Linked DNA regions of Homo sapiens. The protein of the gene in region 5 purifies or fractionates together with the protein of the main gene of each other region. This does not show direct contact. Each region holds a gene or a part of one and is shown on either strand. Other genes may lie near its edges. The genes, in order: PIP4K2A, NAXD, GRAMD1B, POTEI, MAEA, EML3 and SYT1.

Region 1 (3,500 bases), on a different chromosome or scaffold from region 5:
GCATCCTTTGACTTTACAAAAATCACGATTTGAAATGTTTTCTCTGGGTTAGTTATTGTAACCTAACATAGGGATTTGACATATCCCCAGTGTTACATAAAATAAGTGTGGGATCAAAATAAGTCTATTGACACCTCCCAGGGGCTTTAACAGTATAAAGACTTCCTTCTGTTCCACTGCTACAAAATTGTTATCTTATTGGTGAGTTCTTTATTCAGAAAAGTCTCCTTTATCCAACATCTATACTTTTTCTTTTTATAAACAGAATATTTTAAATATAATTTGTAGGGTCTTAATGATTGGGAATCACATTATTAATATAAATTATTTAAAGGGCACTAAGTAGAAGTCAGGAGACATAGATCCTAACCTGTTAGGAACTGCCTCTTGGATGATCTCTGAACTCAGCTTCTGCACCTGCATTTCATTCATTCATTCATTTATTCATGTATTCACTCTTGACCTTATTCCAGAAAGGATTTAAGGTGGCCTTCAAAGAAGTTGGAAATACAAGCTAGAATAAATGAAAAAAAGAAAAGGAAGAGGCAGAAAGATAAAGGCACAAAATGGAGCCTGGAATGAGCGTAGATATTCATGCCAAGATGACCAGCATGCTTGATACTTTGAGTCTGTTGCCAAGGAGAAATGTAAGTGGTCTTGGTACTAAGATGCAACAGGGTTGACTCTAAGGAGTTCCCCACAGAGCGGACACAGGGACATCTGACCTGATAAAACAACATCCTTGCCACAAGCTGAGAAACATACAAGAATGTTAGAGAACTTAAAAAAAAATTGTCCGTATAGGCTGCTAATTATCAGTATAGGCCATGTATAAATACAGCCACAGTTGCAGCACCGTTTTGCTAATTTGTCCATTTTTAAATTACATTTAAACGAAAGCAAATTAAGAACAAGGAAATGTATAGGTGACACAAACGTTGACCATTAAAGGTGGACATGCCACTCATATACATCTCAGCAAAATCTCACATAGAAGAGGTTTTTAAAAATACAGCAGCAGTGAAGAGTAACAGTGTTAATTACATGATCAGAGAATTCCACAGAAACCTCATAAAAGGTCTCAACATTCACACAGCTTATTTGATACTGATCTATTCGGGGTGACCCCTGCTAGGCTCACTGAGGGCAGGTCTGGGACCCTGCTCAGGTTGGCAGGTGTTCATGAAGGAAGATGCAGTCCGCCGAGTCAAACATCACACCCGCAGCAATTAGCAAAGGCCACACCAGTGTGTAGTTTACATTTAGTAAATGCTGTTCTACAGAGAAAGGCTATAATGCACACCGGCTGCCTAGCCCTCTCCCATTCTGGCTTCTGTTTGAATGTTCTTCAGGCTGTTCTTCTTGTATGCCACTTCCAGACGAGATTTTGATGAATATTACTGGGTGGTGGGCTCAGCCTGGCATGTCCTCATGTGATTCTGTGTGACCGGACACAGGCCTGTCATTGGTAAACCCAGGGAGGCCTGTCAAGCTTTGTGTTTCTATCCCTGTGGTTTGAGATGCTCAGAGGTATTTGAGGTATATGTCAGGCCTTCATTCCTACTTTCTGTGGGCCTAGAGTACTTTTAGGGTTTGTATCTAAGAAACTTTCTCTCTCTAGCTTCAGTAGTGATCATCATTTCTTCTGTTTCTTCTTGCTTGTTGTTGCTTTTGCCTTGGAACTCTCTGGGCTTCTGAACCTTCCGAATCTAGACAAGTAATGCAGATCGTTCAGGTGCATATCAGTTGATGAGAGGCTCTCATAGAGGGTTTCTCCCGTGGAGTGAATTGCATGGACTTTCTGACAACTTTGGTTACCCAACAGCCCTTTTTTTTTTCTTTTCCTTTGTTGTTTTTTGTTTTAAGGAAATGCAGCCACAGTTGGAATTATATTCTGGAGGGTTAAAATTGCCCAAGGCCAGCCTCTGGAGAAGTAGAACATGGCTAGTTATTTGAATATTTGAATAAATTCTTCCTAGGTTTAATTTTCTGACACACTGACCTTCCCAGCAATCTGGGATGGCAGGTGGTTCAAGAGCAAGGACTTGGAGCCAGCCAGCCACCTTCTGGTCCCAGCCATGCCCCTGGCCAATGGCATGACCTTGGGCAATTTACTTATACTTTTGACACCTCTTGGTCTATAATATTTGGATAATAGTACCCTCTTCATTTGGGTGTTGTGCTAATTAGGTGAATTCATATTATAACATGCTCAGAGCAGTGTCTAGTATATAAGAAGTGCTAAATGGGCCAGGCGCAGTGGCTCACGTCTGTAATCCCAGCACTTTGGGAGGCCGAGGTGGGTGGATCACCTGAGGTCAGGGGTTCAAGACCAGCCTGACCAACATGGTGAAACCTCATCTCTACTAAAAATACAAAAATTAGCCAGGCATGATGGCACGTGCCTGTAGTCCCAGCTACTCGGGAGGCTGAGGCATGAGAATCGCTTGAACCCAGGAGGTGGAGGTTGCAGTGAGCCGAGGTTGTGCCACTGCACTCCAGCCTGGGTAACAGAACGAGACTCCGTTTCGAAAAAAAGAAAAAGAAGTGCTAAATGAGTGACTGAATAAGATTTTTAATTAAATATCGTTCTTGTATTTAATTTCCTACACCTCAGTGTTGAAATCATTCTCATGTGGCATTCAGTCCTTAACTCTTTTAATCCACTAGGGGGCCTGGTTTCTGGTAGACTGTGGCACTGATGCAGAATTACGAAGACTTCAGCCGTGAGGAGTTAGATTTTTCCCCCAAGTTCCAGTATCTTGCTCTATTCTTTATTTCCTGCCCAAATTCTACCCTAGCTTTCACTCTGTGCAAAGAAAGAAGAGCATCATCTCTCAGACCAATGGAGAATTCATATTAAGCACAGCAAACTTTCATAAATTTTGTTTACTTCATTTGATTTTCTCTTGTAGTTGGGAAAATAATGTTTCGCTATAAATATCCTTTTCACATTTCTGTTAGGCTGTAAGAAACTCGGATCCTATAAATGATGATTATCAGTTGATTAACTAAACAATGTTAGAACATTCAAAAAGGAAAAAATGGTAAAAAACCTATTTGCCTACTTGAATATCTTTTTATCTTAAATCGACTGAATTTTTTTTTTCCCCGCACTGACGTGAATTCATTGGGAGCTTTGGTATCATGTAGCTTCAACTTGAATTAAAATTGAAAAGTATTGACTGGACACAGTGGCTCATGCCTGTAACCCCAGTGCTTTGGGAGGCCGAGGTGGACGGATCACTTGAGGCCAGGAGTTCAAGACCAGCCTAGCCAACACAGTGAAATCCGGTCTCTACTAAAACTACAAAAAATTAGCTGGGGGTGTATGCCTGTAGTCCCAGCTGCTCAGGAGGCTAAGGCATGAGAATCCCTTGAACTCAGGAGGCAGAAGTTGCAGGGAGCCAAGATGGCATCACTGCACTCCAGCCTGGGTGAGATTCTGTCTCAAAAAAAAAAAAAAAAATTGAGAGGCACTGTTGGTAACATACTTCCCT
Region 2 (3,500 bases), on a different chromosome or scaffold from region 5:
TAGCTCAGGGATTGTAAACACACCAATCAGTGCCCTGACAAAACAGGCCACTCGGCTCTACCAATCAGCAGGATGTGGGCGGGGCCGGATAAGAGAATAAAAGCAGGCTGCCCGAGCCAGCATTGGTAACCCGCTCGGGTCCCCTTCCACGCTGTGGAAACTTTGTTCTTTCGCTCTTTGCAATAAATCTTGCTACTGCTCACTCTTTGGGTCCACACTGCTTTTATGAGCTGTAACAGTCACCGCGAAGATCTGCAGCTTCACTCCTGAAGCCAGCGAGACCACGAGCCCACCGGGAGGAACGAACAACTCCAGACGCGCTGCCTTAAGAGCTGTAACACTCACCGCGAAGGTCTGTAGCCTCACTCCTGAGACAGAGACCACGAACCCACCAGAAGGAAGAAACTCCGAACACATCTGAACATCAGAAGGAACAGACTCCAGACGCGCCACCTTAAGAGCTGTAACACTCACCGCGAGGGTCCACGGCTTCATTCTTGAAGTCAGTGAGACCAAGAACCCACCAATTCTGGACATAAAAATACATGCTAAGAATAATTTAAAGTATTGAAAACTAAAGCCGTGTATATTAAATGAAATTTGAAAGCTGACAAAGCATTAGCTGCTCGCCTAACAAAGTGCTCATTTCAGCCTGTTTATGACGCACATTCCAGCCATAGGAAAGTGTGTATTTGGCTCTGACACTGGTCCGAGCATTAGCAGTGTGTCCTGAAGCCCCTTCCAGGGAGGCAGGTACCTGAGACTTCATGGAAGTTTATTATTCCCTTTATTAACAATAAAAATTCTTTGTCTGCTTGCCCTGAGTTTGGCTTTACTGTTAAAACTGGCAGGCTTTTGCTAATTCAGATTTTAGATCAGTTTCTGATTTCATGTTGCAGTATTTGGCAACAATCTGACATTTTCATCTGTTTCTGTGTTTTCTTTTAATGTATTTGCAAATAGTACTCAAAAGTGAATATTCAAACCCTGGAAAATGCAATGTTACATGGGTCTCCTAGAAAGGTTTGCAGCATCAGAGCACCCAGCGCAGAAGGGTGTCCCCACCCATGGGAAAGCAAACCTTGGTACACTAGGGAGAAATCTGGGGGCATCTCTCAAAAATTTAAACGTCCTTACTCTGATTCAGCAATGGAACTTCACCCAAAAGAGTGCACAAAACACATAGATTCAGGACACCACTGATGTTAACATGAAGAAAAAGCTGAAAACAGTGTAAATGAACTAAATACACTGTAGTAGATCCATAAATTCTGATGTGGCTGTTAAAAATAATGAGTATCCACATATCCTTCCATGAAAAAGTCTCCAGGACACACTGTTAACGAGTGTGCAAAGAGCACAGTGTGAGGACAGGTGCATTGGTCAAGAGCCTGCGCTCCAGATTCAGACAACGTGGGTTCAAAGCCAGCCCAGGAACCAGAAGACTTAATGTTGTTAGACATTCCCCCAACTGATCTTCAGTTTCAACATCATCCCTACCAAAGTTGCGGCTGCCTATTCCACAAATCAGCAAGCTGATCCAAAACTGGAATGCATGGGACCCAGGAGAGCCAAAACAACCTTAAAAAGAGCGAATTTGGAGGACTCGGGCTTTCGACGTCAAGGCTTCCTACACAGCCACAGCAGTCAAGACCGGGCAGTTGCAGGACAGCTGTACAGATCAACAAAACAGAAACAACAGTCCAGAAATAAGCCTTCACATTTAGGGTCAACGGATTGTCAGGGAGGATGACAAGTTGGGAGGAAAAAGGAGTCTCTCCAGCACATGGTGCTGCAACAGCTGGACACCCACAAGCAAAAGACTGACGCTGGAGCCTCCTCCTACCACACCAGCATCAGCTCGACATGCACCGCAGAGCTAAAGTAACAACCAAAACAATAAGGCTCTTAACATGTAGGAGTAAACCTTGGGTTAGGCAGAAGCTTCTGAGATAAGACACCAACAGCACAAGGGACAAAAGAAAAAACAGCTAAATTGGACTTCAAAATTAAAAACTGTGCTGTAAACAAAACCATCGAAGTGAAAAGACAACCTACAGAATGAGAGGATATCGGCAAATCGTCTCTCTGATAAGGAACCTGTGTCTAGAACGTATATGAAGAACTCCTAAAAGTCAATAAAAAAAAGGCAAAAAACAGTTTTCAAAGTGGGGAAAGGGTATGAATAGACACTTCTCCAAAGAAGATACCCAAAGAGGCCAGGCATGGTAGCTCACGCCTGTAACCCCAGCACTTTGGGAGGCTGAGGCGGGCGGATACCTAAGGTCAGGAGTTCGAGACCAGCCTGGCCAACATGGTGAAACCCCATCTCTACTAAAAATACAAAAATTAGCTGGGTGTGATGGTGGGCGCCTGTAGTCCAAGCTACTTGGAGGCCAAGGCAAAGGAATCACTTAAACCCAGGAGGTGGAGATTGCAGTGAGCCAAGATCACGCCATTATACTCCAGCCTGGGTGACAGAGTGAGAATATGTCTCAAAAACAAAACAAAACAAAAACAAAAAAAAAGATACCCAAACAGCCAATGAGCACATGCAAAGATGCTCAACAGCATCAGCTGCCAGGAAAACGCAAACCAAACCACAGTGAGGTCGCTCCACGCCCACTAGAGTGGCTGCTAAGTAGACAACAACAGTAACAAGTGCTGGGAACGATGTGGAGAATCAGAGCCCTCGCACACTGCTAGAGGGAATGGAAAATAGTGCAGCCGCTATGGGAAACAGTGGCAGGGCCTCAAAATGTGAAACACTTAACACCCAGGAGAGTGAAAACACATCCACACAAAAAGTGGAAACCAATTTTCCATAAATTAATCAACAGATAAACCAAAGGTGGTGTATGCATACAGTGAAATATTAGATATAAAAAGGAATGGAATACTGATACATGCTACAACACAGGTAACTCTAAATATAAAATTATGCAGAGTGACATAACTAATCACTAAATAGCACACGTTGCATAATTCCATTCATATGAAATGTCCTGAACAGGCGAATCCAGAGAGACAGAAAGCATACTAGCTGAGTGGCTGCCAGGAACTGGGGAGACTGGGGAACAGGGAGCAGATGCTAACGGGGATGGGCTGCTTCTGGAGGCAATAAACATATTCTAAGGTTGATCATGGTGATGGTTGCACAACTATGAATATACTTGAAGCCACCGCATAGTTCACTTTAAATGGGTGAGGGGTATGGTAGGTAAATCATCTAAATAAAGTCGTTTTTAAAAAACCATCTCTGCAGTTTCTTTGCTACCAGATCCCACGGGCGTCTTGAATCCTTGCCAGGACTCAATCTGTCATCAGAAGAATGGGGCTATGAATAGGAATCTACCTAATCGGGTTGTTTTCAGGCCTACACCAGATGATGACCTCATTCAGGAACGTCGACGAAGTAGGAAGCCTCTGCTCCGCACCAGACACGAGCTGGAAGCTGACGAGGAGGCGGCAGCCCACGCTAGATGACCTGAGGGCTCTCA
Region 3 (3,500 bases), on a different chromosome or scaffold from region 5:
AGGAGGCTACAGCGGCATCCCTGAAGTGTTCCTCGACGAGCACCCACCTTCATCTCAAGGAGGTTTTCTTTCTAGGTGTATAATGCAGGGAAGTTTTCTAGTTATCATCAAGAATTTGGGCAATGCCACTTAAGGAGCGCTCATGTCCAGAGTCCTGTCTTCGTCACCGTTTGGGAAAGGAAATGCATGCTCAGAACCCAGATATTTGATTCAGAGGCTTCAAATAGGATGGGCACCCATGGAAAAAAAATAGCTTAAGACAAATAATCCTTTCAGTTAGGTAGGGATAACTCTAAGGAGGCTGCCTAGGAAAGGTGAGTTTGCAGCCAGGAATTTTACATGGGGGGCAGGGAGGGGTGGGGTGGGATATGAAGGAGATTTCAGAAGAGCAATGGGGTAGGCAGGGGATTTTTGGTTAGAGGAAGATCATACACAAAGCAAAGAAGCAGGAAATCTCATAGATATGGATGGATAGAAAGGTCTGAGATTCTTAGAATAGTTGGCCATCTTGAACCACTGAGGGTAATGTGGACTCACTGGTGTCTCCTCTCAGATACTGTGAAGAGATCCCTGTGGAAGAGAATGAAGTGAATGACAGCTCATCCAAGAGCAGCATAGAGACCAAGCCAGATGCCAGTCCACAGCTGCCCAAGAAATCCATCACCAACAGCACACTAACATCCACAGGGAGCAGTGAGGCCCCCGTCTCGGTATGGGCAGTCAGCCTTTGACTTCTACCCCCAGTCCTGTGGCCAGCGTTTCCTAGCATAGTTCACTGGGAACCCAATCTGGGGAGCAGGTAGAGAGGAGATTGGTTACATTGTTGTCAGTTTCTTCAAGGAGGCATTCTGGAGCAGATGGGCTCTCCGTATTCTAGTGGCATAGCCCGGGGTCCAGAGCTGGGGCTAGGTGCCTGGGGTACAAGACTGGGTTTGACTTCTGAGCAGATGAAAACCATTTCAAGCCCACTGTGCTGGGCTGCTGCTGATCAGCCCTTCTGGTAGAGAACAATTCCAGGTATTTTTTCACTGCCTTGATCTGACGTCAAAGTCATGCATGAATATAGAACTATAGAACAATTAATTGTTTATCCACTCATTTGGTTGATATTTGTTGAGTATACGTATTGTGGCTTATTTCTCCACTGTGGTAGACTTTATGGAAGCCATAAAAATGTGTAAGAGAACCTCTGTCCTGTGGGACTCTGTTAATAGAGGAGGTAGAACCTTGATGAGGAAAGAGGGTCAGGGCATGTGCTGGCAGGCAGAAGAACAGGTAGGGTTCTTCAGGAAAGGACTCCCTCAAAGAGCCTTGTATTTCAGTAGGCTATGGATCAGACCACCTGCCTTCAGAATGAAAACATTATTCATTGGATACCTGGTCTTTATTTTCCATCTCTGAGGTTATCTTTAAAATGTAAAGAGTTGTATCGATTCCCTTCCAGGGCTAATGAGAGAATGAGTTTTAAAAAATGCTTATGAAGCCTTTCGAGCTTCTTAGGATAAACAGGTACTACCTGGAGGCAGGCTGACCTTGTTGCAGGATGGTGCAGGTGCGGCTCCAGGAAAGGGCCTGGGCCTGTGGGGACCAGCTCTGTGCATTTGGGGAGCTTGTTGTGCTGTTGGAATGGCGAGCGTGAGAAGTGCAGTAGTCCTTGTACTGTGTTTGCCCATCCTCTGTGGCAGCTCTGGGGAAGGGCTTTGGAGCCTGACTCTGACTTCGCTCCTGAGCAGCTGAGCTGGGAGTATGAGAGCTGCCAAGGCTGCATCCCTAATCTCCCTTTGGAGAATAGATCCAGACCAGGTTTCCCTGGTGGGTGACTCCTCTGTCTTGGCTCCAGTTTGATGGGCTGCCCCTGGAGGAAGAGGCGCTGGAGGGAGACGGGTCCCTGGAAAAGGAGCTCGCCATTGACAACATCATGGGGGAGAAGATTGAGATGATCGCTCCTGTGAACTCCCCTTCACTGGACTTCAATGACAATGAGGACATCCCCACTGAGCTCAGTGACTCTTCCGACACACACGATGAAGGTGGGCATTTGAAAATGGGTCTGGAGTGGCCCTTGCTCTGTTTTGAAGGCTAAAAGGAGATCTCTATGTGGGGACTGTAGTTAGTCTCTAGGTTCCTGGTGGAGAGATGGGAGCAGAGCTTCCTTAACAAAAGGTACCTGTTATTAGTTTACATCCCTGTTTTCAGTCATTTGCTGTAGGAGCCTCCCATAGATAATGCTTTGTTCTGTCATTTAGTCTTGTCACTAAATGTTCCCCCTATTGACATTGGCTTGCCTTGCGACCCTGACCCTCACAGACACGCAAGTCTAGGCAATGTTTATAAGCCACAAGGAAGGTGCCAGTCAGCTGCTCCCTGGAAATAATTAGATTTTAACAGAAACGTCCTCAAGATAGCTGCGAAACTTGTTAATGCAATTTTTGCTGCATGGGGTATTTAGGCCCAGCTAGAAGAAAAGGTGTTGCTGGGTCAAATAGGGTTTGGAGACTCCCTTGTTTCTCTAATTTTTGTAAGCAGGTAGCTTCTAACTTCATGCCTGCATAGGATTAGCTTCTAGAACCTCCCTTGGGAACATGCTGCTGCTTACCTTCCATGGAGAGAAGCCAAATTCTCAGCATTCATGAAATCAATTGATGGATTTCCTCCATTGAGTGAGTGGTCTGTTATGACTGGTGAGCATATGAGCACGGTGCTCACTTGTGGATCTGTGGACACCTCTCCCAGGGGCCACCTGCAGTGGTTTTCTAACTTTTGGTTGGTTTACCCACCCCCATCTAGAGTCCAGGGTTGGCACAAGTGACTGCATGGGTTAGATACTGCCTAACTCCAGGGTGCCTTTCACATAAACTAAGGTGTGAATACCCGCTGCGCTGCACTTGTGCAGTACCCATCTGTGCAGTCATAGGACTTGACCCCTACAGGGTACTTCAGAGTTCTCTGGTTTCCTCAGGGTCCTAGGGGTGCCAGAAATGGCAGCCTCCTCCTGAGATCACATACCCACCCATGCAGGTGCAGTAATTAGGGACTGAGGGGTGCCAAGGGTTCGGGGGGGAGCACTGAGGCTTTAGCAGCTCTCCTGTATCCTCATTTGCATCCTCCTGTAGCAGCTGGAAAATTCAGATTACAGGTGAAATTCCCTGGCTGGCAATCTTCTGTATATGGACACAGTGATGTGCCAGAAGGGCTTTGCATCCCTGAGACTGAAGGAAGCTCCATTTTTGGAGCCCTCCCACACCTTGCTCTGTGTGCCTCTCATTCTGATTTGAATTCTTATTTTGCTATATGATGAAGCTGTAATCCTAAGTTTAAAAAGGGGAGTAGGTATTGACATCATGGTAGAAATAGGCTGTCTTATGGAACTGTAGTTAGGGATCACAGCCTATTGGACCAGCCCCAGCCTTAGCAGCAGTTCTGTACACTGATTCTTCCAGATTAGTCTACGTTCCCTCGAACAGACCTATGCCATGGGTTACAACTACAATTTGTTGTCG
Region 4 (3,500 bases), on a different chromosome or scaffold from region 5:
CACGACTGTTAATTGTATTCATATGCACTATAACTTTACAAAGCATCTTCCCAAACCAAATATTTACTGATTTAGTATAATTTGTATGACTTTATTATAGAACTGACTTTCCAAGTGTTCATGAGAATTGTTTAGTATTTGCTACATTGTATCATCTCAGCTGTGTCCACATGAGCTATCTGTCACCTTGTCTTAATGAATAATTGTTCACTAGGAATATTGGTTTTGGCATTGAAATGATCTATATCTAAATGCAGATAGGACCCGGGACCACTTTTGAACATTAATGTCCAAGCATCTTAAAATTACACATAAGGCTTTCATAATCTGACTTCTGCCCCACTCTCCATCTTTAGCCCTTTTCCCTGTGTGCACTGTCTCTGGCATTACTGAGCTGCTGGCAATGCCCTACTCACTCATCCTTCTATTGTAGGCAAATACTTTCACTCTTTCAGGCCTCGCTCCCGCTCTTGCTGCTGCATGGTATGCCGTCACCCTTTCCTGCCCTCTACCCCTTTTAATCTGGCTAGTCTCAATATTTAAGTCTCTGCTTGGGCATGTGTTCTAGAAAAGCCATCTCTGACAGGCTTTATTTTAATTCTTTTTAAACCCTAATGCCTAGCATGTATTTAGCAGGACTCAATAAAATATTTCTGAGTAAAACAAAGACTGTTTTTACAAAGATGATGTGCAAGACTCTCCCCTGCAGTCTTGGAGCAGAGGGGACAGACATGTGGAGGAATAATGTACAGTTTAGGTGGTCAAGATGCAGTAGAAAAATCAGTAAAGTACTAAGGCAGCCTCAAGGAAGGAGGTACCTGTTTATTTGGGGAAAGACATGCAAAATCAAGGAAGACTTCACATAGCATTGTTTCAAAAGATGAAAATAAGGCCAGGTGTGGTGGCTCACACCTGTAATCCCAGCACTTTCAGAGGGGATCACGAGGTCAGGAGATCGAGACCATCCTGTCCAATGGTGAAACCCCATCTCTACTAAAAATACAAAAATCAGCTGGGTGTGGTGGTGCTTGCCTGTAATCACAGTTACTCAGGAGACTGAAGCAGGAGAATCACTTGAACCAGGGAGGCGGAGGTTGCAGTGAGCTGATCATGCCACTGCATTCCAGCCTGGTGACAGAGGAAGACCCTGGTTCATAAAAAAAAAAAAAGAAAAAAGAAAAAAAGAAAATAAATTTGTCAGAATAGTGGAGGGAAACATTTTAGATATTAGGAAGACGTTGTACACTAATAAAGGTGTCAGCAGTGATTTTGGAAATCATTTATAAGGTACTATTAGGAAGTGGAGAACAGTACACTGTGTCACCTTATATGTTTCTACTGTATTTTAAAGCTGTGTTTCTGGTGGTTTTGTTCATGGATGTTGGGTGGATGAATTTGTGAGGGAATTTTTGACATGTTTGTTTGTCTTCAATCTGGTGACATCTGGTATCTCCCCAAGTGGGTTTTTGAAGTTTTTGAGAATTATTTCTTAAATGACAATTTCACAAAAGATGAAACACTCAATTTATGAAATAAAATGAAATGTCTCAAATCCGTTTTTAAAAGGCAATAGTTTTTAACTGTTCTAAGTGGTTGATTTTAACTGAATATATGGATTTTTCAACAGAACAAGACTTAAAGCTGACATCAGAGGAAGAGTCACAAAGGCTTAAAGGCAGTGAAAATGGCCAGCCAGAGGCATGGAAACTTTTAAATTTAAACTTTTGTTTAATGTTGTGTGTTTTTTGCCTTAATAATAGTAGATAGTCCAAATGAAATTACCTTTCAGACTAGGCTTTGAGAATCAGTAGATTGTTTTTTTAAGAATCTTTTGGCCAGGCAAGGTGGCTCACGCCTGTAATCCCAGCACTTTGAGAGGCTGAGGCAGGTGGATCACGAGGTCTGGAGATCGAGACCATCCTGGCTAACATGGTGAAACCCCGTCTCTAGTAAAAATACAAAAACTTAGCTGGGCGTGGTGGCGGGTGCCTGTAGTCCCAGCTACTCGGGAGGCTGAGGCAGGAGAATGGCATGAACCCAGGAGAGGGAGCTTGCAGTGAGCCGACATCCACCACTACACTCCAGCCTGGGTGACAGAGCAAGACTCCATCTGAAAAAAATATATATATATATTTTAATAGGTTCTTAAAATTTATTGTAATAAAATCAGCAACCTTCTTAACAGAAGAATCAATAGATTCTAATTTAATATTTGATATTTAACTTCAACATAACCCACTATAAAATTTAAAATACTCTTATTTTAAAATATTCTTATCTGCCTTCTTGATTAGCTTATAGCTAATCTCTCCTTTTGGAATAGAGGCAAAAACAAATTTCAGAACTTTGTTTGTTCTTTTATTTTTACAACACCCTAACATGATAAAGAAAGTAACATCAATGATTGAATCATATTATTAAGCAATAGGAATTATGAACAATGTAACACTGATTCCCTGAGCTGGATTCATGGTTAAAGAGTAATCATGGCCTGTGATTGAAAATCCACAGTTTTATATTGTCAGTCACTGATACCAAGGTTAAGGACATATCCTGCCTTGTGGTCTCTCGTTGACCTCAGTGTTTCTGTTCAGGGAGGGAACCAGGTCATAAAAGCAACCCAACTGCCTATTACAAGAACCATATCTTGCAGAATGGGACCTTTGGTGTTAGTGCACAAACACAATAACATTCTAATTTATTTCAGTTGCAGAAAATCAGTACAGATTAAAAAATTCTATCTGCTGTCATTAGTACACATTAGAATATATTAGAACTGGACTTACGCAGATAATCTGGATACATAACACTATCATATGACAGTATATAATTTCAATTAAAATGTGAGAATTTGCATTTCTTTCTGTTTGGTGTTGATTTCGGCTCCTAATAGTTTAAAGGGTGCCTACAATCCAGTTAGGAATCTTTTAAAAAAGCACTTCAGTGCACTGTAGGGGCTCACTAGTTAGGGTTTCATGAGGTAAACTCTTTTCAAGTGAGGAAGATTTTGGAACACTACAAATCATCTGCTGATTCATTTTTGGTAGATTTAACACATAACAAATTAAGTTTAGTCCAAACAAATAGTGAGAAAGTTAAGTTTGCTGGTTCATGTTTTTCTTCTCCCTTTGTCTAAGGTGAATTATTTTTCACATGTTAGAAGCCAGTGATGTGGCAGTAGCTAAACATAGATTAAAAAGTTAATTCTTAATTTTAATTATTATTTATTTAAACAGTTTAATTTTAATTACTTTCTAATTTTTATTGTCCATACTTGATTACTTCAGAATAAAATTATTTTAAAAACATGCACTCCAAAAGAGGAAATGTCACAGAAATACAACAAGCAAATTAACCTTCTGTTTTTACATCTGCAGAAAAGATCTCAAGAACCAGAAATAAATAAGGATGGTGATAGAGAGGTATACCTTTATATTCAAATGTTTGTGTTGAATTAGATTTTTACATTATGTTGTTTAACAAAGTGTAGTAAATGTAGG
Region 5 (3,500 bases):
GACTCACCCGCAGACCCACCTGGCCCCACCCTCTTGCTGGCTCTTGTCCTCGGCATTTGTCCCGCACCTCGTTCACCTTCTCTCAGATGCTGCCCTGGGTGGAGCGGCACCCTCCCACCCATGCCTTCTCCCCACTGCTGCACAGCCTCCCTGCTTGTGTGTGTGTGTGGTGTCCGTCCTGCCCTCCAGGAGGGGAGTGGCGAGCAGCTGCCCAGTGGGCAGGGTGAGCGAGTGAGTCCTCGTGTCCTGGAGGCCCTCATCTGCCCAGACCTGCACAGCACTGTTGCTCTCGGCACCGCTGGGGTATGGCGTCTCGGTTCACAAGCGTGAATGTGATGTGTCACAGCTGTGCCATGAGTTGATCTGCCAGATGGCAAAGTGCACTGATCCTCTGCGGTGACCGGGGCTGGTGCCCCTGGGTGCCCTGCAGTCTTGTTGAGTTTCCGAAGTCTCCAGGTCATGACTCGCAGCCACTCCAGTGTGCACCCAACATTCTCATCGCTGGACGGGGTCGTCTGTGATGCCTCTGCCGTGCTGCCCACTGGGCTGCTGTGGCCCCCATCTGGTGCCATTTTTCCTCCACCTGGGTGTCAGGGAAGGGCATTCTCACCTGCACCTGCCCAGGCTCATGTGACGGACAGTGGGCCAGCACATGTCCGCTCCGGTGCCCTGTCCCACATGCCTTTCCCACCCACCCGCCTCCCTGGCCCCGTGTGCCCGGCTTCCCCCAATGCACAGGCCCTCGCTCCGTGCTGCCCACATGTCCTGGCTGCCTGGGGCGGCCCCCCGTGTGTTCATAGATGACCTAGCCATCCTCTCCTAAACGCCCAGCACACTGTCCTTGGGACCCATGGGGTGTGACCAAGCAACCTGGCGGTGGCTGCTGAAGCATGAGCTGTGGGTGCCCCTGGCCCCAGGGAATGTGCGCTGTGTTGGGGGAGAGAGACGTGAAGTGAAAGAAGGGGGTCCTGTGGTGGGCACAGGCCACGCGTTCCACAGAAGTGCGTAGAGCAGGGTGGATATGGGAGTGCTGATGATTCTAAGGCCAGTTGGAGTAGGCCTCAGCAGGGTGAGACGGGCTACACTCAAGGTGTTGGGGTGCCCTGAGCATGTCTGTCCAAAAGAGGGCCTGGAGCTGCTGTGTGGAAGAAGGCGGGCGTGTGGAGCCCATGAGGACTGGGTTGCGGGGGAGGGGTTCTTTCTGCTGAGATGCTCCGGAGGGCGTTGAGCTGAGGAATCGCTTTTGACCACAGGTGACCATGGCACTAGGAAGCCCTGGGGAAGGTGCTGCTGTGGCCGAGGGGGAGCTGCCAGGTTGTGGAAATGTAAACCCCGGCTGCGCTGGTCAGACCTGGACTTCCTGTAGGGGGCGCCATGGAATTCCCACGTGGGACCCCAGTTTCCTACCTGTGCACCAAAATTCCTGTGCACCAAAATTGGAGACGTGACAAACTTAGGAAAATAACCTCATGCTCTGGATTGGAGCAAGGTCCCAGACAATACAGGACAGGAAGCTGCTGCCAAGGGAAGGCCACCCAGGAACAGGACAGGAAGCTGCTGCCCAGGGAAGGCCACACAGGAACAGGACAGGAAGCCTGCTGCCGAGGGAAGGCTGCCCAGGAGGGGCAGAACAGAGTCCTCAGTGTGGCTGGTGCTGTGCGCCTGCCTGTGCTGCCTTAGGCTGGACGCAGGGCTCTCAACCCGTAATCCTAGCACTCTGGGAGGCTGAGGCGAGCGGATCTGTTGAGCCCAGGAGTTTGAGACCAGCCTGGGCAGCAAAGTGAGAACCCTTCTCTACAAATTTTTTTTCAAATTAGCTGGGAGTGTTGGTGGGTGCCTGGGGTCCCAGCTACTCTGGAGGCTGCAGTGGGAGGATCACTTGAGCCCAGGAGGTGGAGGCTGCAGTGAGCCAAGATTGCACCACTGCACTCCAGCCTGGGCAACAGGACAACACCCTGTCTCAAAACAAACAAAAGTCAGCATGAGCATTTCGTGTGAGACAGAAAACCAGTTCACTTAGATGGTTTCTAGTTTCAGTTGACGTACGAGCCTGCTGCCAGCTGGCCTCACATCTTTCATGTGACTCTCACAACCGGAGACCCGGACATTGGAGAAACCCTCAGTAAGAGAGATCCAACTGGGTTCAGACCCCGAGGCTGTGTTGACGGGACATGAGGCAGGATATAGACCAGGAGCCACCTCCTGAAATTTAGAGCAAAACTACAAAACAAGGCCTTTGGGAGACCAGGGTGGGAGCATCACTTGAGCCCAGGAATTTGAGGCAACAGTGAGCCATGATCTCACCACTGTATTCCATCCAGTCTGGACAAGAGAGCGAGACCCTGTCTCAAAAAAAAAAAAATGGTTTTTCAAGTTGCAAAACAAAGTAAGACTTTGTGGGAGACCCAACATTCGCCTGCCCTGAAGGGGCTTCAGAAAAGAAATCATCAAAGCAAACATGCAAGAAAACACTATGAAGGGGCTCCAGAAAAGAATCATCAAAGCAAACATGCAAGAAAACGCTATGAAGGGGCTTCAGAAAAGAATCATCAAAGCAAACATTCAAGAAAACGCTATGAAGGGGCTTCAGAAAAGAATCATCAAAGCAAACATGCAAGAAAACGCTATGAAGGGGCTCCAGAAAAGAAATCATCAAAGCAAACATGCAAGGAAACGCTATGAAGGGGCTTCAGAAAAGAAATCATCAAAGCAAACATGCAAGAAAACGCTATGAAGGGGCTTCAGAAAAGAATCATCAAAGCAAACATGCAAGAAAACACTATGAAGGGGCTTCAGAAATCATCAGAACAAACGTGCAAGAAAACACTATGAAGGGGCTTCAGAAAAGAAATCAAAGCAAACGTGCAAGAAAACTCTATGACGGGGCTTCAGAAAAGAAATCAAAGCAAACGTGCAAGAAAATGCTATGAAGGGGCTTCAGAAAAGAAATCATCAAAGCAAACATGCAAGAAAATGCTATGAAGGGGCTTCAGAAAAGAATCATCAACATGCAGGAAAACGCTGTGAAGGGGCTTTAGAAAGAAATTATCAAAGCAAATATGCAAGAAAACGCTATGAAGGGGCTTCAGAAAAGAAATCATCAAAGCAAACATGCAAGAAAACGCTATGAAGGGGCTTCAGAAAAGAAATCATCAAAGCAAACCTGCAAGAAAATGCTATGAAGGGGCTTCAGAAAAGAAATCAAAGCAAACGTGCAAGAAAACGCTATGGAGGGGCATCAGAAAAGAAATAATCAAAGCAAACGTGCAAGAAGACACTATGAAGGGGTTTCAGAAAAGAAATCATCAACATGAACATGCAAGAAGACGCTATGAAGGGGCTTCAGAAAAGAAATCATCAAAGCGAACATGCAAGAAAACGCTATGAAGGGGCTTCAGAAAAGAAATCATCAAAGCAAACATGCAAGAGGCCGGGCACGGTGGCTCACGCCTGTAATCCCAGCACTCTGGGAGGCCAAGGTGGGCAGATCACGAGTTCAG
Region 6 (3,500 bases), on a different chromosome or scaffold from region 5:
TCTTTTCTTGTGTCCTGCCCCTCCCCGCTTAGGTCTTGGGACCTGACCCCAATCCCTGTGCTTTCTCTCTTCCCAACAGCCGTGGGGGAAAAGACCCCCTCTCCAGCCCTGGGGGCCCTGGATCTCGGAGGAGCAATTACAATTTGGGTATGTAAAGAGGGACAGAGAGGAAAACTTGGATGGCAGGGTTAGGATTTGGGCTGTAGCCCCAGGAGCTATTTTGGGTAGGTGTGGTGGGTAGGGTTCTGCTCTGTCTTTCCTGGAAGGGGGTAGTTGACACCACCCCTTTTCTCTGTAGAAGGCATCTCAGTGAAGATGTTCCTTCGAGGGCGCCCCATTACCATGTACATCCCGTCTGGCATCCGCAGCCTTGAGGAGCTGCCGAGTGGCCCACCGCCAGAGACCCTCAGCCTTGACTGGGTGTATCCTGCCCCTTCCAGTCCCATGAGAACCACCTTTCTCACCTTGGGACCCCTCTTACCTTTACAGTTTCCTCCTGGGTCTGTGGGGACAAGGAGCCTTCTAGATCCTCTCCTACCATCATTCTGCTCTAGGCCCTGCCAGCCAGAAGCTCTGTCTTTCTCCCCTCTTCCTCCTCCTGCCCTTGATCTAACCCTTTCCTTGACCGTGATCTCCACCCCAGTTATGGGTACAGGGGTCGTGACTCCCGCTCTAATCTGTTTGTGTTGCGCTCTGGGGAGGTGGTCTACTTTATCGCCTGTGTGGTGGTGCTGTACCGGCCTGGAGGAGGCCCAGGGGGTCCTGGAGGTGGCGGCCAGAGACATTACCGGGGGCACACAGACTGCGTTCGATGGTGAGGAGTCCGGGGCTGGTGGGCTTGGCAGGAAGAGGGTCTGGGGGGATGGAGAAGCAGGAGAAAAGAGTTGCCTTGCTGCTCTGCAAGCTTGGAGAAGGTGTCTTGGATGGTCTTGAGAGACCCTTTCCCTAGAGTGTCTTCCCCCTGCCTTAGCCTTGCTGTTCACCCTGATGGTGTTCGGGTAGCCTCGGGACAGACAGCTGGAGTGGATAAGGATGGAAAGGTAAGGCCAAAGTCAGGGAGCAGGCAGACATGCTGGAATTGCACTCCAATTTTGCTTCACACTTGTGACTCTTCCTCCACCAGCCCCTGCAGCCTGTGGTTCACATCTGGGACTCAGAGACGCTGTTGAAACTGCAGGAGATTGGACTGGGGGCCTTCGAGCGGGGTGTTGGGGCCCTGGCCTTTTCAGCTGCGGTGAGCTGGCCCTGAAGCCTCTAGACCCCCATTCTTGCCTAGGAACCCCACTCTTGCATGTCACCAGGAAGCCTTGGAAGTTCTGGCCTTCCTGAACCCCACCCAGCTGGTTCTCTTGAGAAAGGGCCATGTGTGTCAACTTTTTCTGCCCTCTCCATCTGTGATGGTACCTCTTAACCTAATGACCATGAACCCCTGGACCTCCAGGGTTCACTCTGCACCTCCTATGTGTCACCCTTCTTCAGGATCAGGGTGCCTTTCTTTGTGTGGTGGATGATTCCAATGAGCACATGCTGTCGGTGTGGGACTGCAGCCGGGGAATGAAGCTGGCTGAGATCAAGGTGAGGAGTCCATGTGGCTTGGAGGGGCTCTGAGGTTGGGGGTGGGAGTGGTGGAGTGCAGGGAGCTCCAGACTCACCCATACATTTCCTTCCTTTTTGGCTGGGTCACATGGGGCAAATCTCCTAGCTTCTCTGACCCTTAGTTTCTTCATTTGTGACATGGGTTCTGACCTCATGAGGCATAATGTGTTAGGTATTAGGGTGATTAATTATGATTGACAGGAAATAGTGCTCTTAGGGGACCAGGGTTTTGAAAGAAGGGTTGTCCTGGGGTTTCTGGACCTCTGCCAGCCAGCTGTCATGATGCAAATTGAGGAGAGTCAAGTAGAATGAAGGTACCCAGGGCTTGGGGTGGCTGAATCTAGTGTCTTCCCTTCAGAGTACAAATGACTCAGTCCTGGCCGTTGGCTTCAACCCTCGTGACAGCAGCTGCATCGTCACCAGTGGGAAATCTCACGTCCACTTCTGGAATTGGAGTGGTGGAGTAGGGGTTCCTGGGAATGGGACCCTTACCCGGAAACAGGGTGTCTTTGGGGTGAGGCATGGATAAGTGGAAGGTGATGGGGAGGGCAGAGTGGAAGAGGAAGCACTGGGCTGAGTACTATGGACCCTGAGGTTCCCTAACCCCCACCTGCCCCTGTGACCTTTTTTTTTTTTTCTTTTGAGACGGAGTCTTGCTCTTGTCACCCAGGCCAGAGTGCAATGGCAAGATCTCGGCTCACTGCAACGTCTGCCTCCTGGGTTCGAGCAATTCTCCTGCCTCAGCCTCCCGGAGTAGCTGGGATTACAGATGCGCGCCGGCTGATTTTTGTATTTTTAATAGAGATACGGTTTCATCATGTTGGCCATCATGCCCGTTTTTTTTTTGTTTTTTTTGTTTTTGAGACAGTGCCTTGCTCTATCACCCAGGCTGGAGTGCAGTGCGGGATTTCACCATATTGGCCAGGCTGGTCACAAACTCCTGGCCTCAGGTGACCCGCCCGCCTTGGCCTCCCAAAGTGCTGGGATTACAGGCATGAGCCACTGCACCTGGCCTGCCCTGCGACTTTTAATCTTTGCCCTTCCCTTTGACCTCTACTGTCTGCTCTCCCCTCCCACTAGAAATACAAGAAACCCAAGTTTATCCCTTGCTTTGTGTTCCTTCCGGATGGAGACATTCTCACTGGAGACTCAGAGGGGAACATTCTCACCTGGGGGCGGAGCCCTTCAGATTCCAAGACCCCAGGCAGGGGTGGCGCCAAAGGTATGTGGCTGGGAGGGGCATCTGGGAAGTGTAGTACTCCAGAGGTTCTGTGGGAACAGAGGAGAGGGTTTCCCATTCCCATCTTTTTTTTTTTTTTTTTTGAGATGAGGTCTTACTCTGTTGCCCAGGCTGGATTGCAGTGGCGCGATCTTGGTTCACTGCAACCTCTGCCTTCCAGGTTCAAGTGATCCTCCTTCCTCAGTCTCCCAAGTAGCTGGAAGTACAGGCACACGCCACCACGCCCAGCTAATTTTTGTATTTTTAGTAGAGATGGGGTTTTGCCATGTTGGCCAGGCTGGTCTCGAATTCCTGACCTCAGGTGATCCGCCCGCCTTGGCCTCCCAAAGTGCTGGGATTACAGGCGTGAGCCACGGCGCCCAGCCAGGTTTCCCACCTTTTTACCTTGAGAGTTGATAGTTCTCTTGGGGGCTAGTCTAGAAGCGTGTGGGCAGCACAGCAAAGGAGAAACGGCTGGAGCTTTGTGTTTGCCAGATCTCAGGTTCAGATTCCAGTTTTGCTATTAGTTGCCTTGCCTTTAGGAAGTTACCTCATTTCTGTGAGTCTCAGTTGTCCTGTTTGTAAAATGGGGAGAATAACAGATGTGTTGGCAGTATGAGGATGAGACATAGTAGTCAGTGCATGCAATGGCTGGGAGTTCTTACTGTATTGCGACAGCCAAGCT
Region 7 (3,500 bases), on a different chromosome or scaffold from region 5:
TTACTAATCATGTCTTTATAATCCGATGCCTATTTTAGCTGTTTTTTGACCATCTGTCTGTGTTTTGTTTACCTACAATCTAGCACTCTTATTGCCACTGTTGTATCATGATTCCACAAAAAAAAAAAAAGATATTGAAGCATTAAAATAGAAACAACATAATCATTCAGGTTATTGGGCCATGTTAAAAGTTGAGCCACCTAGCCAAAATGCACTTAAGTACACGGTGGGTCACAATTAAAATGGTTATGCATTTTTTTTAAGAGGGGGAATTGCTTTTTTACTCTACTAGCTAAAAAGGCATGAACTCAGATTTTTCAGGCTGAGATGTAAAAACCTATGGTGTTACTGCATTTACAAAATAGCATATACCTTGAATAACAGTAAGAGTCTGCTTTGTTACCTATATGGATCTAAATCAGTCTGTTGACACAAAATCTCTAATGGCAGAGTATCTATGATAGTCTACTCACACCTCTTTTTTTCTTCGCAAAAATATTAACCATACCATAATACCTTAATATTCATAATGAGGCTTAAGAATGCATCAGTAAGAAAACAGACTTAAAGAAATGTAATAGTTCTGTGGTGTTTGGAAAAAATAAAAAACACAGTTACTCACCATTAAAAAACCTCACCTCTAATCTCCCTTGCTTTCTATGAAGCTGAAATTACATTTCTTTTACTCCGTGTCCTATATTTAAACACAGAATCTCATAGATAATAATCATTCTACTGTAAGTTAAAATAAATGTAGTCTGCACACCAGTGAAGGTCAAATATAATAGAAACTAGAAGATCTTATTTTTTATCTCAAAATGCTACCCAATTTCTAAGAAATTTCTACTCAGCTAGCCTGAGGCTTTGATAAAGAATAAAAGTTTCCCACTTTGTAATTACAAACTTGTGATTGCTTAACAATGCATTTTCACTTACAAATCATGCTCTGGAAAGAAAAACAATGCACAAGAGCTTTTAGCAACTGGAAAGTTATTTGATTACAACTCTTTTGCAAAAATGAACTCCATATTTAACTGCAATCAGCAACCTTTTAAAAGCCTCTTTTGTGCTTAAAACCAGGCTTCCCAGAGCCTGCATCAGTCATAATTGGGTTTCTGAAGTCTACATAGCTCAGTTCATTTGCCTTCTGTGTTCAGATTCATAAGAGAATCAGAGTTTTATTAAAAATAAATAGGAAGAGGGAGAAATCCCAATATGCAGCATTGTGAACAAATCGATCTTTTCCAAAATGTCCACTGATATTTATGTATGCTGTATTCTGTCATTTATTTCAGCTGCTGGTAGGGATCATTCAGGCTGCCGAACTGCCCGCCTTGGACATGGGGGGCACATCTGATCCTTACGTGAAAGTGTTTCTGCTACCTGATAAGAAGAAGAAATTTGAGACAAAAGTCCACCGAAAAACCCTTAATCCTGTCTTCAATGAGCAATTTACTTTCAAGGTATTTGTTAACATTTATTTATAACCTTTCCTTTGTTGTTTTACTTAAAAGACTGATCTCATCCTGACACATACATAGACATGCACATGAATGCTTGTTCAGGCACTCACAATAATTCCAGTCAGAATATGCAAAATTCTTATCTTCACTACAGTCAACATTCGATATTGCCTTTCAGCGTGTTCAGAGTAGGATTCGGTTCAGTCATTTCAGAATGGAATGGACTAGAACATGACTAGGATGTCATAGTCACATCTAAAAAGTGAGATCCCTCCCTGAAATAAAGCCAAAGGAATGAAATCATTATTTTTCTGAATTTCAAAGTTTGTGAAAATAAGTACATCTGTTACAATCCCAGGATTAAGTAAGCTGTGTCCCAATGCTTAAATGGTACAAATAGACATGACTCTTGTAACAAAATTGTGTGTGTAGAGGGCAATTTGAGCACTTCAAAGTCATTCTTCTTAACTAATCAATAAAAGGAATATGAACATATTTTTTATTGCATTTCTAGCCTTCTTCCTTTACTCTAGGTTCTGCCCTGATGTTCTTCATCTTGTTGAGGCACCTCAGTTGACAAACAACAGAGAGATTCCAGCCATATAATATCTCATCAGGAAAACATGTCCTGCAGGTCTCCAGGATCTTCGTGGATCTTGGCTTGAAATCATTCATTAAAAACAATTCTTTTGGTGGATATCTTTAACGTGCGAAAAAAACTTTTTAATGCATTACTTAGAACAATATGTTTCTGAAAAATGAAATATCTGTGAATATGCCAGCAGGCTAATTCAAAATCACCACGTCCATCAGCCAGGCTTAGCATATGCCTTGTGTTGGCAAACATTCTGGGATGAAATAAATTGAAAATGAGGGCATGAGTCATTTTCTCAAACCTTGTTTTCAATTATGTAAAGGGGAAGTGTCTTTCTATTCACTCTAAAATTTCTGAGTTTTCAAGACAAAGGTCCCTCATGTATTGTCAGTAATCTTATTTAAAATCTGGTTTTTCTGTACCTAAGCAGTGAATTTAAAGTAGCAGTAAAGACATTCTGGAAATACTCAGTTCATGAAGAGTATCTGCTCATGAAGCTTAATCACTATAGTCAACATACTACGAAACGTAAAATGGAAATAAAATTTTAAAAATATTGTAATAGTAATCACAGTTGTTTTATTCATCTATTTATTAACCTTAACTTAGGTCAGCAGTTTCTGACCAAAACTTAGTAAGGAAATTCTTAAATTATATGAGCTAATGTATTGGGGCTTTGTTTTGTATTGCATTACCTACATTATTATTTCTTTAAAAAATGCTAATAATTTTATTAGTAATTTCTATAAAACCAAGTATAATTATTGAAATTTTTGAATTCTCTATACATTTTTATCAAGTTTCATTTTATTTCAGAAAGGTTGATCAAACTATACATAAATCCAAAGTATAATATATTCTGCTATATTAAAAAATACTTCAATTTTTCTAGAGAACTGGTTAGACATTGTAGATTACTCATCTTGAAATGCCAAGAGGCAATATGATACAGGAATGGAAGTATAAAAGACTTTAAAGAAGCCTGGCTTTACAATGGATTTAAATCACTTAACAGGAACTCAACATGCCCCAAATTAATTCATCTTCTTTTCCCCCAAAACAGTTATCTGAAGGAGCTACTAATCATTCAAACAATAAATATTTTTAAGTGCTTCTTCTGTGCTAGGTGTTTTACATATATTCATTCATCCCTAAAATAGCCCCATGAAGCAGCCATTATTACAGTATTATCACAATTTAATAGATGAATAAACTTATGTTTAATCACGTGCCCCAGGCCCTTTAGTTGGAAAGTCCAAATCTGGTACAAGGTCTGTCTGACCCCAAGTCCAGGTTTTTGACTGTTGCTCTTTGAGTACAATCACTAGAAAGTCTAGAGAGATTTTAGATATACAATAACATTTTCAAGGGTTTATCCTTACTCTAAAAAATTTTGTTTCTTTCTTTGAGAGTCAGCTCTTTGGAAGGGTTTATTTTCCATT

The links.
Region 1: the proteins of MAEA (region 5) and PIP4K2A purify together in Homo sapiens (co-immunoprecipitation; one large-scale study listed by IntAct). This does not show direct contact.
Region 2: the proteins of MAEA (region 5) and NAXD purify together in Homo sapiens (co-immunoprecipitation; one large-scale study listed by IntAct). This does not show direct contact.
Region 3: the proteins of MAEA (region 5) and GRAMD1B purify together in Homo sapiens (co-immunoprecipitation; one large-scale study listed by IntAct). This does not show direct contact.
Region 4: the proteins of MAEA (region 5) and POTEI purify together in Homo sapiens (affinity purification with mass spectrometry; one large-scale study listed by BioGRID and IntAct). This does not show direct contact.
Region 6: the proteins of MAEA (region 5) and EML3 purify together in Homo sapiens (co-immunoprecipitation; one large-scale study listed by IntAct). This does not show direct contact.
Region 7: the proteins of MAEA (region 5) and SYT1 purify together in Homo sapiens (co-immunoprecipitation; one large-scale study listed by IntAct). This does not show direct contact.

The regions. Positions count from the first base shown.
Region 1 is NC_000010.11:22,585,579-22,589,078, reverse strand, and holds part of PIP4K2A (phosphatidylinositol 5-phosphate 4-kinase type-2 alpha), read left to right. Parts: intron 1-3,500. UniProt on the Homo sapiens protein: Catalyzes the phosphorylation of phosphatidylinositol 5-phosphate (PtdIns5P) on the fourth hydroxyl of the myo-inositol ring, to form phosphatidylinositol 4,5-bisphosphate (PtdIns(4,5)P2). Has both ATP- and GTP-dependent kinase activities.
Region 2 is NC_000013.11:110,629,045-110,632,544, reverse strand, and holds part of NAXD (ATP-dependent (S)-NAD(P)H-hydrate dehydratase), read right to left. Parts: intron 1-3,500. UniProt on the Homo sapiens protein: Catalyzes the dehydration of the S-form of NAD(P)HX at the expense of ATP, which is converted to ADP.
Region 3 is NC_000011.10:123,604,769-123,608,268, forward strand, and holds part of GRAMD1B (protein Aster-B), read left to right. Parts: intron 1-553; coding exon 554-710; intron 711-1,840; coding exon 1,841-2,030; intron 2,031-3,500. UniProt on the Homo sapiens protein: Cholesterol transporter that mediates non-vesicular transport of cholesterol from the plasma membrane (PM) to the endoplasmic reticulum (ER).
Region 4 is NC_000002.12:130,474,829-130,478,328, reverse strand, and holds part of POTEI (POTE ankyrin domain family member I), read left to right. Parts: intron 1-1,627; coding exon 1,628-1,698; intron 1,699-3,377; coding exon 3,378-3,422; intron 3,423-3,500.
Region 5 is NC_000004.12:1,317,391-1,320,890, forward strand, and holds part of MAEA (E3 ubiquitin-protein transferase MAEA), read left to right. Parts: intron 1-3,500.
Region 6 is NC_000011.10:62,606,276-62,609,775, reverse strand, and holds part of EML3 (echinoderm microtubule-associated protein-like 3), read left to right. Parts: intron 1-79; coding exon 80-147; intron 148-298; coding exon 299-422; intron 423-643; coding exon 644-814; intron 815-970; coding exon 971-1,040; intron 1,041-1,123; coding exon 1,124-1,234; intron 1,235-1,479; coding exon 1,480-1,575; intron 1,576-1,954; coding exon 1,955-2,110; intron 2,111-2,676; coding exon 2,677-2,818; intron 2,819-3,500. UniProt on the Homo sapiens protein: Regulates mitotic spindle assembly, microtubule (MT)-kinetochore attachment and chromosome separation via recruitment of HAUS augmin-like complex and TUBG1 to the existing MTs and promoting MT-based MT nucleation.
Region 7 is NC_000012.12:79,294,774-79,298,273, forward strand, and holds part of SYT1 (synaptotagmin-1), read left to right. Parts: intron 1-1,295; coding exon 1,296-1,463; intron 1,464-3,500. UniProt on the Homo sapiens protein: Calcium sensor that participates in triggering neurotransmitter release at the synapse. May have a regulatory role in the membrane interactions during trafficking of synaptic vesicles at the active zone of the synapse.